3 linked regions of the Homo sapiens genome follow. The protein of the gene in region 2 purifies or fractionates together with the protein of the main gene of each other region. This does not show direct contact. Each region holds a gene or a part of one and is shown on either strand. Other genes may lie near its edges. The genes, in order: NUSAP1, HPDL and LSM12.

Region 1 (3,648 bases), on a different chromosome or scaffold from region 2:
GTTATTCAACAGATTACTTGGCGCAAAACAGTTTCACCATTCACAACAGCAGATAGTTAATCTGAAAGGATTCAGTCCTTGGCACTATTACCAATAATGATCTCTTTTTTAATAAACAGCATATCTTTTTTTTTGTTTTTTGAACGGAGTCTTGCTCTGTCACCCAGGCTGGAGTACAGTGGCGCGATCCTGGCTCACTGCAACCTCCACCTCCCGGGTTCAAGCAATTCTCCCTGTCTCAGCCTCCTGAGTAGCTGGGATTACAGGCTCCCGCCACCACATCTGGCTAATTTTTGTATTTTTAGTAGAGACGGGGTTTCACCATGTTGGCCAGGCTGGTCTCGAACTCCTGGACTCAAGTGATCCGCCTGCCACTGCCTACCAAAGTGCTAGGAGTATAGGCGTGAGCCACAACACCTGGCCAACAGCATGTCTTAAATCATCACTAGTTGTGTGTTAATTGCCCATTAACCAAATATGATTATTTTGCTAGCTAACAGGTAAACATGAAAAACATTACTCACCTGATTCTCATTTCCTTTTCTTGCCTCATGTTTAATGTAGCCTTTCAAGGCTTTTAACAACTTGGTTGCCTGCAAGAGAGACCTTATTATTAGAGCCAAAAGTCAAATAAACAAGGAAGATACGTTGAATATTTTTTGCTGTTCTTGTATTCATTAAATGTACTCTGGTCAGACCATAGGACTAGAACCATTACTTAGAAAGAATGGGTCTCTGCTCTAAGGAATTTCACATCTGAGTGGGAAAGTTAGACAAGGAAAGAGGCAATTGCAATACAGTGGGGTAAATGCCCACGCTAGGAGGCTCAGGCTGTCATGAGAACATAGGTAGGCATGGCCATCAAAGTTGGGACTGCTAGGTTAGACTTCAGCAAGTATCTGCACAGGGCAGTTCTCAGATAAAGATGTGATGTCTCTAATTGCTGAGATCTGAAGGATGAAGAGAAGGTAGAGAAAGAGGTAGAGGAATGGCACAGCAAGGCAACAATGAGGGTGGAGTTTGAAGAACTTAAGTTCAGTGTGGCTGGAACATGGACCTGTTTGTAGGAGATAGTAAGAGACAATGTTGGGAAAGTGAGCAGGGCCGTGATGTTACCAGGCCTTGTAAGCCTTTAAAGAGTATGAACTTTACTCTCAGAGAAAAGGGCAGTCTCTGAAGAGTTTGCAGCAAGGCAGTGGGTGACCAATTTTGCATTACTCAGAATGAGTAGTCTACCTGCACAATGTGCAAGATGCATTTGATGGGGATGAGCCAGAAATGCTGTGGCCTGAACTGGAGCGGGGCTAAGGCAGTATGGATGAAGTCAAAACCTTCTTAGGAAGTGAAATCAGTGTGAACATGAGAGTTGAGGAAGAGGGAAACTTTGTTATGCCAACGTTTCTGGCTTGGACAGCTGGTGAAGTGTGGTACGGTCCCTAAGATGAGGAATGCAAAAGGTGACGGGGTCTTAGGGGGATGGTTGTAGGTCTCTGCCGGGGGAAGGGAACACTGAGCTTCTCTTCCCAGCCTAGGAAAACCTCCCTTCTTGTTCTTTCCTGAAAGAACAATGTTAATTTGATTGGTTACATTTTCCTGTGCTTTAAAAGTCAAGTTTGGTTGAGCGGGGTGGCTCATGCCTGTAATTCCAGCACTTTGGGAGGCCGAGGCAGGTGGATCACGAGGTCAGGGGTTTTAGACCAGCCTGGCCAACATGGTGAAACCCCGTCTCTAATAAAAAAACAAAAATTAGCCGGGCATGGTGGTGTGTGCCTGTAGTCCCAGCTACTTGGGAGGCTGAGGCAGAAGAATTGCTTGAACCCAGGAGGCGAAGGTTGCAGTGAGCCGAGGAGATGATGCCACTGCACTCTAGTCTGGGCGATAGAGCAAGACTCCGTTTAAAAAACAAAAGTCAAGTTTTTTGGTTGGGTTCTTTTTTTCTTCCTCTTCCACCCAGCCATGCAGTTGAGGGCCACAGCCATCCTTCTCAAGGTGGGCCCAGCCACCAGGCTTGGCTCTATTCTTCTCATGCCTTTTATCATGGGCCATGTGTCCAGTAGAGAATAGCAGAGATCCTGAAATTTGGTTTGTGCTCAAGCTTTTGCTTGTGGTGCAAGCCTAAGCCACAGTCTCCAATCCACTTTACCAGAATGCTCTGCATCAAGATATCAGGCACTATTTCAGCTAGTAATAAAGTGGTACCTTATTTTCTACTTGTTCCTTGAACCACCCTTGAGGTTTTCTCTGGGAAGGGGATGATTGGCAGGGCAGAATTCAGGCATTCTTGATTTTTCTAATACTCTCTTAATATACCTTCAAAATCTCACCAAACATACAAAAATGCATGAAGTGAGGCACCTGTGGCAGAACCCAGTGAGGAGGTTGAATGATATGAGGTGGTGTTCAAGAGTTGTGCTGAAGGTGCAGATGTTAGTTATCAGCATATATTCATGCATTCCTTCAACAAGCATTTATTGTGCTGGGCACTGTTCCAGACACTAGAGAGTGATTAATTAAACAGACAAGGTGATTGCCCTCCAGGATCTTCTAGCAGAGGTGAAACAGTTACCCAAGAAAGCTAGAAATGAATGATATGACGTCAGGTATTATGATGCAAAAATAAAACTGGGCAACTGGGGTGGGGTGGGGATGCTACCTGAATTAGGATGGCTGGGAAAGGCCTCCCGAGATGTGAATGAGGAAAGAGGCAGCAGGTGAAGAGCACTCCGAGCAGAGCGAGCGCCAAGAACAGGAGCCCTGAGGTGGACTCATGAGTTGAAAGACAGAAACTGCCCTTATGGTAGAAGTATGGTGAACACTGAGGTATATGGAGGGCAGGGAGATCAGAGATGTGACCAGAGGCTGGGTCAAGTAGAGAGGTAAAGGCCACAGCAAAAATTATGAATTTCAGCCAGGTACAGTGACTAATGCCTGTAATCCTAGCACTTTGGGAGGCCGAGGCAGGAAGATCACCCAAAGTTAGGAGTTCAAGACCAGCCTGGCCAACAGGGTGAAACCCCATGTCTGCAAAAAATAGCTGGGCGTGGTGGTGGGCACCTGTAGTCTGAGCTACTCAGGAGGCTGAGGCGGGAGAATCACTTGAACCTGGGAGGTGGAGGTTGCAGTGAGCCGGAATCGCACCACTGCACTCCAGCCTGGGTGACAAGAGCGAAAGTCTGTCTCAAAAAAAATAAAAAAATAGAAAAAAAATTAATTTCTTCCCCTAAATTGTTATTAGAAAAAAAGTCAGGCCTATAGAAAAGTCAAAGTAGGCTGGGTGTGGTGGCTCACGCCTGTAATCCCAGCACTTTGGGAGGCCTGAGGCAGTCAGATCACCTGAGTTCAGGAGTTCCAGACCAGCCTGAACAATATGGAGAAACCCTGTCTCTACTAAAAATACAAAATTAGCTGGGCATGGTGGCACATGCCTGTAATCCCAGCTACTTGGGAGGCTGAGGCAAGAGAATTGCTTGAATCCAGGAGGTGGAGGTTGCAGTGAGCTGAGATCATGCCGTTGCATTCTAGCCTGGGCAACAACAGCGAAACTCCGTCTCAAAAAAAAAAAAAAAAGAAAAGTCGAAGTAATGTAATAAACACTCATATTTCCCACCAAGATTCAATAGTCATTTGCATTGTCTCATATTTGGTTTC
Region 2 (3,748 bases):
AGCTATTTTGGACAGCCTTCCACCCTCTCCCTAGCCCCCTCACCCCTTATATCTGAGGGAGGGACCCAGAAAAGTGGTGACGTTCTGCTTGGTTCTGACTTTCTCTGGCTGAACTCCCAGCCAGCCCCGGGCAGATGGGGTTGGAGTGGGGGTGTTCTGTCCAGACTGATCTGCCCTCCAACCCCCAGGAGAAAGGCAAGGCAGCTACAGGGAGAACCTGCCAGTGGCTGACACACAACACCCTCTGTTTACGTCTCAGGTCAGCTCTAATTGGAGTGGTGGCATCACTCTGGAGTAGGTAGTTGGGCTCAACTCTCACCCAGCCCCTCCCCACCTGAGTGGTCGCTCCCTAGGGGGAGAGGAAGCACAGGAGAAGATTTGTTCTGTTTTAAATTCCTACCTCAAATACGAAATAATTTATTTAGGGTTATGTTACATACGGAGTGAAACAATACAGAAAAGCAAAGGGCTAATAATGACAGGATTTGAGGAGTGGGTGGGAGGAAATAGAATCACAGCGGGACACAGGGAGGACTCGAAAGTATTGGTTATGTTCTATTTCCTAGTGTGTAATTCTTTTATTGTTCTTTGTATCTTACATATTTATTATAGACTGTATATAAGAAATGTTTTAGTTTTAAAAAATCCCACCTCTTTGGAGCCCAATGAGAGACACAGCTTCTGGCAGGCACTGATGAAATGGAAGTCACACCTGCCCCCCGGAGGCAAAGCCTTTCACTAGTTGGGCCTCCTGCAGATGTTCCTCAGTTCTGTGCTGGTCTCCCCAGAGCTGCAGGACAGCTGGCTGCACCCAGCCCTGGGCATCCTTAGGCTTCCTGGCTCCTGGCAGATTGCTCCTGTACGGACTGCCACAGAGCTCTGATGTTGCCCTGACCAAAGCCAGTGGCCCCCTGCCTCTGAATCAGCTCCAGGAAGAAAGTGTCCTCAGTAAAAAGGGACTTGGTGAAGACCTGAAGCAGAAACTTGCCTTTATCACCATCTAGCAGGATCCCCTGTCGAGCAAGCAGATGAGGCTCGTGCCCTGCAGCTCGGATCTGCCTCTCCTTTCCTGGCTGCTGGTAGTATGCCCCAGGGGGAGCCAGGAACTGGCCTCCAGCAGTTGCCACCCCCTCAGTGGCCTCCACAATGTTAGGCGTATACAGCCCCACGTGCTGCAGGCCTGGCCCCTTGTGCCGGGCCAGGAACTGCTCCACCTGGTCCTGTCGTGTCGTCGCCCCCGGAAGGGACTCAGCCAGAACAAGAGTGGGGACAATGCTGCCCGGCTGGGCCTGCAGGGCTGTAAGCCTCAGTCCCCCAAGCCCAAACCCTGCTGTCATTTCGAGGCCCAGCTCGGGATCCTCACCTGGGCTCAGCGGCAAGTGGCAAAAGCCCAGGCAGTCGTGGAACCAGCGCAAAAGTGTGGGGGAGCTGCCGGGGGTGCAGGCCAAGGTCAGGTGGTCCACGCGGCTGACCCACCCGGGGCCAGGCGCAGAGGACACGGGCCTGAAGCCGGGTAGGAAGGGTCCGCGGTAGCCAGCGCGCTCCAGCAAGGTCAGGCTGAGGATGCCGGCAGGCGAGCTGACCACGGCGTAAGTGGCGGCACCCTGCGCGTCCCGCACGCGAACGGGAGGGACAGGCACGCTGCAGCCCAGCGCTGCCAGCTCCCGGGTTGCAGCGCCGGCGTCCGCCACGTCGAAGCACAGGTTTGTGGCGCTGGGCACGGCGTGACGCGGATCCAGGCCGTACAGCGGCTCTCCAGACCCTGCGCCCTCGTTCACCAAAAAGACCGCGTCGCCGCTGCGCAGGGCTAGCTGCCGCCAGCCGTCCACCTCCCGCGAAGCCAGGGGCTGGAAGCCGAAGAGGCGCTGCAGGTTCCGGGCTAGGGGCTGCCCGGCGGGCACGTGGAAGGCGATGTGGCACAAACGAAGGGCGGGCGCGGCCATGGCGCTCTGGACGGCGACCTAGACTTGTCCTTCTGGGGCCGCTTACTTGTGGTTGGGGACTTCGGGGCTCTCAGTCCTGGGCTGATCGTCCGGAGTTGGGGAGTCCGGCTCACCCCGCAGAGCGCGTTCCTCGCTTTCTTCCGGAAAGAAGTCACCCGCCGACCCCTGAGAGCTCGCGGTTCTCCCTGCAGCGCCACCCCAGCCAGGAGCAGCGTCTGGACCACCGGGTCTCAGTGAGCCGAGCTGCTGGTTGTGAGAACCACGCGGTGCCTGTGCTCGCGCCAAGCAGGAGAAAGAGGGCGGAGCCCGTGACTCCGCCTTTGACTCCCCACCCCCTCCCCCACACCCTGTCGCCTCGGATACTGCGGGGTCGCCGCGCTGCTCTTTCCCCGGGCCTCACGCCTGGTCACATCCTTGGGCACTGAGCCTCCCTTCCCCAGCCCAGGAACTCACAATGGCTGCCTTCACTCGGCGCCAGGCACTGGGCTCCCACTCATCCCCCCAACCTCACAGCGAAGGGACTCAGCCCGGGTTCAGGGAAAGAGTTGGAATTCTCTCTCCACAAGCACGGAATTTTTTAGCACTTTCATGTTTTTTCTTTAAGTTCTGGAGTTTGCCTCTAAGTCTTAATGTTCCCTGGAATACACACACACACACACACACACACACACACACGTTTATATGTTTTGAGACAGGGTCTCACTCTGTCACCCAGGCTGGAGTGGCACAATCACAGCTCACTGCAGCCTCCACCTCCTGGGTTCAGGCGATTTTCCTTGCCTCAGTGCACAAATAGCTGGGACCACAGGCGGACGCCACCACACCCAGCTAATTAAAAATAATTTTTTTTTTTAGAAATGGGGTCTTGCTATATTGCCCAAGCTGGTTTTAAACCCCTGGGCTCAAGCCATCTTTCCACCTCAGCCTCCCAAAGTGTTGGGCAATCTCTCAACCAGTCCTGTCTCTTTCTTCAATCACCCTTCTGTCAACATCATTTAACCCCTTGTCCCAAGCAAGATTTGGAGGAAAAATCTGACGGTTCGGGATCTGAAAGGAACAGCTGCCTGGCTGTCATTCCCCTTCCCCATCCTTTGAGGACTGGAACACAGGCCCTCCTTGCTCTTTGCAGCTTCCTGACTTGGCATTGAGCCAGAGATTTCTGTGGTGGGGGCACTTCTGGCTCTGAAACCCAGAATTGTGTGAGATGACTGGATTGAGGAATTTGTAGTCTTCTGGAACTTCAACTGAGTGGCCCTTGAAGGGTTAGGGAAGGGCATCCAAGAAGGGCAAAGGGCATAAGCAAAAACTCAGTAAGAGTGTGAGCCAGACTCTTAGAGGAGCAATGGGCCATGCTGTTAGGGAGGCATTTAGGATGAATGCCACAGTCCAAGGCATCACAAGAAATTTTTTTGTCAGGCAGCCTGATCTACTGGGTTTCATTGGCAAGAGGGAGAAGGATGTCATAGGGGACAGGGGCTAGCTGGATGTCATGGTGTTCAGGCCTGCAGGCAGGAGGGCAGTACCCAGGAGCTGGTCAGGGTGGTAAAAGGTACTTGGTGCTACTCTGCAGACCAGTGAATGTGAGGACATGAGTTCCAAAAGCCAGACGGACCTGGGTTTGAATCACCAGCAACACTTACTGTCTGTATGGGCAAGTTGCTTAACGCCTCTGAGCCTTAATTTGCCCATCTGTAAAAATGGAAATAATAGTACCTACTTCAAAGAGTTGTGATTAAGTGAGGTGGAGTAAGTGTTCAGTAAATAGTAGCTGTTGCTATTGTAGTTACTGTTTTTTTTTTTAATTA
Region 3 (3,648 bases), on a different chromosome or scaffold from region 2:
CAGACCAGCCTGACCAACATGTTGAAACCCCCATCTCTACTAAAAATACAAAATTAGCCAGGCGTGGTGGTGCATACCTGTAATCCCAGCCACTTAGGAGGCTGAGGCAGGAGATTCGCTTGAACCCTGGAGGTGGAGGTTGTGGTGAGCCAAGATTGTGCATTGCATTCCAGCCTGGGCAACAAGAGCAAAACTCCGTCTCAAAAAAAAACATTTTGTCACAGCAGAAGTCATTTGACTCTCCACTAGCTTCCCTAGCTGCTGAAAAACTGGAACATTTGACACCCCTCTCCACCCCGCCTCCCCCCACCCCACACTGCCATCTGTTACTCTGTTTAACCACCCTGGATCTGGTGCACAGATGGCAGCTGGCATCAGAGCTGTTTGAGGCTGTGGTGTGAGTATCTGAACATTTACAGGTATGTGAAGGAACTCCCAGTCGCATCAGCTGCCCTGGGGCTTCCCAAGTGTGAACTGGAATGGGTTTTCCCAGTCTGGCAAGTGCCCAACTGTCTGATAATTGAGAAGAGCCAGTCTGAAGAGCAGCTCCCATTATGGGTGATAAGGGTCAGAGTACAGATCATAGGAAGATGGGGAGTTTGTTCTCTCTCTCTTTTTTTTGAGTCGGAGTCTCACTCTGTCACCAGGCTGGAGTCCAATGGTGCAATCTTGGCTCACTGCAATCTCTGCCTCCCAGGTTCAAGCGATTCTCCTGCTTCACCCTCCTGAGTAACTGGGACTACAGGCGCGCAGTCCCACGCCCAGCTAATTTTTGTATTTTTAGTAGAGACAGTTTCATCATGTTGACCAGGATGGTCTCGATCTCCTGACCTCATGATCCGCCCACTTCGGCCTCCAAAGTGCTGGGATTACAGGCGTGAGCCACTGTGCCTGGCCTTTCTTTTTTTTTTTTTTTTTTGAGACAGGGTCTCACTTTTATTGCCTAGGTTGGGAGTGCAGTGGTGCGATTTTAGCTTACTATAGCCTCAATCTCCCCGGCTCTGGTGATTCTCCCACCTCAGCCCCCGGAGTAACTGGGACTACAGACGCATGCCACCACTACCGGCTAATTTTTTGTATGTATTTTTAGTAGAGACGAGTTTTTGCCCTGTTGCCCAGTCTGGTCTCGAACTCCTGGACTCAAGCAATCTACCCACCTCGGCCTCCCAAAGCGCGGGGATTACAGGTGTGAGCCACCGCGCCCGACCTGTTCTCCTGTCTTTCTAAAGGTGGTATTTCTCCCTAGGCCAATGGTTGACAAACTATGCCAGCAGGCCACATCTGCTCATCTGTTTTACCTATTGTCCATGCTACTTTTGTACAACTATGGCAGAACTCAGTGCTAGTTGTAACAGATGATATGGACTGCAAAGCCTAAAATGTTTGTTACAAGACCCTTAAGAGAAAAAGTTTGCCAGCCTCTGCCCTAGGCTGCTATCTTAATTTGGATTCTTGAGGCCACTATCACATTTTTATGGCTCTCCAGATCTCTGATGCTTCAGAGTAACAATTTCTGGGCTCTCCCAAGAATAAATGTGCATGAGTTTCATTGCTTTTCTAGCCAGTGGCACCCAAGGAATGTTTCTTGGCTACTATATGGGCTGCTGGCATCTAGTTGTTGGCTGAGTGGTGAGCTGGGAACTTGGGATCAGCCTTCTGGAGTTATTTATTCATCAGACAGGAGATGTGGGATGCCCCCAAGAGGTTACATTTCGCCTGCTGTCTTCTCCTTCCAGCATTAAAGACTGTAAATGGCAAGAAAAAAACATCGTAGTCATGGAAGAAGTTGTTATTACACCCCCATATCAAGTGGAAAACTGTAAAGGCAAAGAGGGGAGTGCACTGAGCCATGTACGCAAAATAGTAAGTAAAGGAGCCTTCAGACTTTAGGGGAGAGAGGATGGTTCCTCAGGCCTTCAGTCTTTAGCACCAGACCAGGACATTGTGCTACAGTCTCTGCCTCCTCTAGCAGCAGAGGCCCTGTCTGGCCTCCCTGCCTTCCCTGTACTGTGGGGTTCTGCAGTCCTGTGGGAATGGAACCACTGGGTGGTGTGGAAAGAAGTGAGTGGGTGACCCTATGTCCTTTGCTGGCTTTTTGGAATTAGGAAGACTGTTCCATGGTATTGGGCCTGAGCAGTTTCTCTCATCCCATATTGAGTTTTTCTTTTTTAGAGACAGAGTCTCGCTCTGTCGCCCACGCTGGAGTGCAGTGGCGCGATCTCAGCTCACTGCAACCTCCGCCTCCCGGGTTCAAGCGATTCTCCTGCCTCAGCCTCCCGAGTACCTGGGACTACAGGCGTATGCCACCACACCCGGCTAGAGATGGGGTTTCACCATGTTGGCCAGGCTGGTCTCGAACTCCTGACCTGAAGTGATCTGCCCACCTTGGCCTCCCAAAGTGCTGGGATTGCAGGTATGAGCCACCACGCCTGGCCCCATATTGGGTTTTTCTTAGCTGCAGGTACCATTCTAGAAAGATCTGGTTGGTATAAATCAGTTGCCGTCGGTGTCTCTGACCCTACATATGTCACTGGACTTAGCATTTGTTAAAACAAACTTAAAAAACACTCCTGCTTTTTTTTTTTCCTCTGAGGAACATTGAGAGACCAACATTGTAGATGTAGGAGGTTTGATAAGACTGTAATTCCCCCAGCAGCTTTTCATTTTGTACTTGGGTATAGAAGAGAGGAGGAGTTTAGGTCATGATAATCTCCCCTTATTATATTTTATAGTTTAGTTTGTAGATTCACCTTCTTCTAGCCAATCTTAGTGGAAACTGCAAAAAAATGTGGCTGAAGCAGGAGGCCCTGGCCTACCTTGTGGTTGGGAAGGCCAATAGACAGCAAGGGCAAAGGTGCCTGGACACCAATGGGCTGGACAGCCAGGATGGGGCTGTGGAAACCTGGGTTGGATTGTTTGGGAGACCTTTCTTCCGCATCTCCTTTGTTGACCTGGGTTGCCTGGTCTTTTTCAGGTTGAAAAACATTTTAGAGACGTGGAAAGCCAAAAGATACTGCAACGTTCACAAGCCCAGCAACCACAGAAGGAGGCTGCCCTGTCATCCTGAGTCCGTACACATGGAGGACTCTTCCAGCATCCAGCCAAGGAGGCGCTGGTGGTGGCTTCAGCGGAGGCAGGCCGGGGGAGGGAAGGGATCCTATATGTCCTGTTGGCTCTTAACAAAGGGTCAGCATTTCCAAATCTTAGACTTGAACAAACAAAACACCCAACAAAAAAGAACAAGAGAATAATTTAAAAGTTGAATCATTACTTGACTAACAGACTTCGGTCCACCATGTCCTTTTCACAGCCCTCTTCTGGAACAGTCACCTTGTTAATTTTATTTTTGAAAATTATTTTCCCACTCTGCCCTTTACTTCTGACTTTCCTTTCCTAGTTTGTTCCTGCCATTCTGTTTTTATAAGTGGCTACACTTGCCTTCTGAATGATTGAAAGAAACTTTTACATCTTTTCTTCCAAAATAAAAGTAACAAGCTGACTGTGATTCTTAAATTGAGACCAGAGCAGCAAACGTCTCACTTTAAATTTTTGTTTTCTTTTCCTTTTTTTTTCTTTTTTCTTTTTTTTTTTTTTTTTGCACAGGGCATGGCTTGAATTAGTTTTATTTTTCTTAACTTTAAATATATA

The links.
Region 1: the proteins of HPDL (region 2) and NUSAP1 fractionate together in Homo sapiens (co-fractionation; one large-scale study listed by BioGRID). This does not show direct contact.
Region 3: the proteins of HPDL (region 2) and LSM12 fractionate together in Homo sapiens (co-fractionation; one large-scale study listed by BioGRID). This does not show direct contact.

Annotation. Positions count from the first base shown.
Region 1 is NC_000015.10:41,339,331-41,342,978, reverse strand, and holds part of NUSAP1 (nucleolar and spindle-associated protein 1), read right to left. Parts: intron 594-3,648; coding exon 525-593; intron 1-524. UniProt on the Homo sapiens protein: Microtubule-associated protein with the capacity to bundle and stabilize microtubules. May associate with chromosomes and promote the organization of mitotic spindle microtubules around them.
Region 2 is NC_000001.11:45,325,344-45,329,091, reverse strand, and holds HPDL (4-hydroxyphenylpyruvate dioxygenase-like protein), read right to left. Parts: upstream 2,198-3,748; 5' UTR 1,944-2,197; coding exon 828-1,943; 3' UTR 382-827; downstream 1-381. UniProt on the Homo sapiens protein: Iron-dependent dioxygenase that catalyzes the conversion of 4-hydroxyphenylpyruvate (4-HPPA) to 4-hydroxymandelate (4-HMA) in the mitochondria, one of the steps in the biosynthesis of coenzyme Q10 from tyrosine.
Region 3 is NC_000017.11:44,035,627-44,039,274, reverse strand, and holds part of LSM12 (protein LSM12), read left to right. Parts: intron 1-1,090; coding exon of another isoform or gene 1,091-1,186; intron 1,187-1,736; coding exon 1,737-1,863; intron 1,864-2,172; coding exon of another isoform or gene 2,173-2,370; exon of another isoform or gene 2,371-2,413; intron 2,414-2,974; coding exon 2,975-3,067; 3' UTR 3,068-3,648. UniProt on the Homo sapiens protein: Nicotinic acid adenine dinucleotide phosphate (NAADP) binding protein. Confers NAADP sensitivity to the two pore channel complex (TPCs) by acting as TPC accessory protein necessary for NAADP-evoked Ca(2+) release.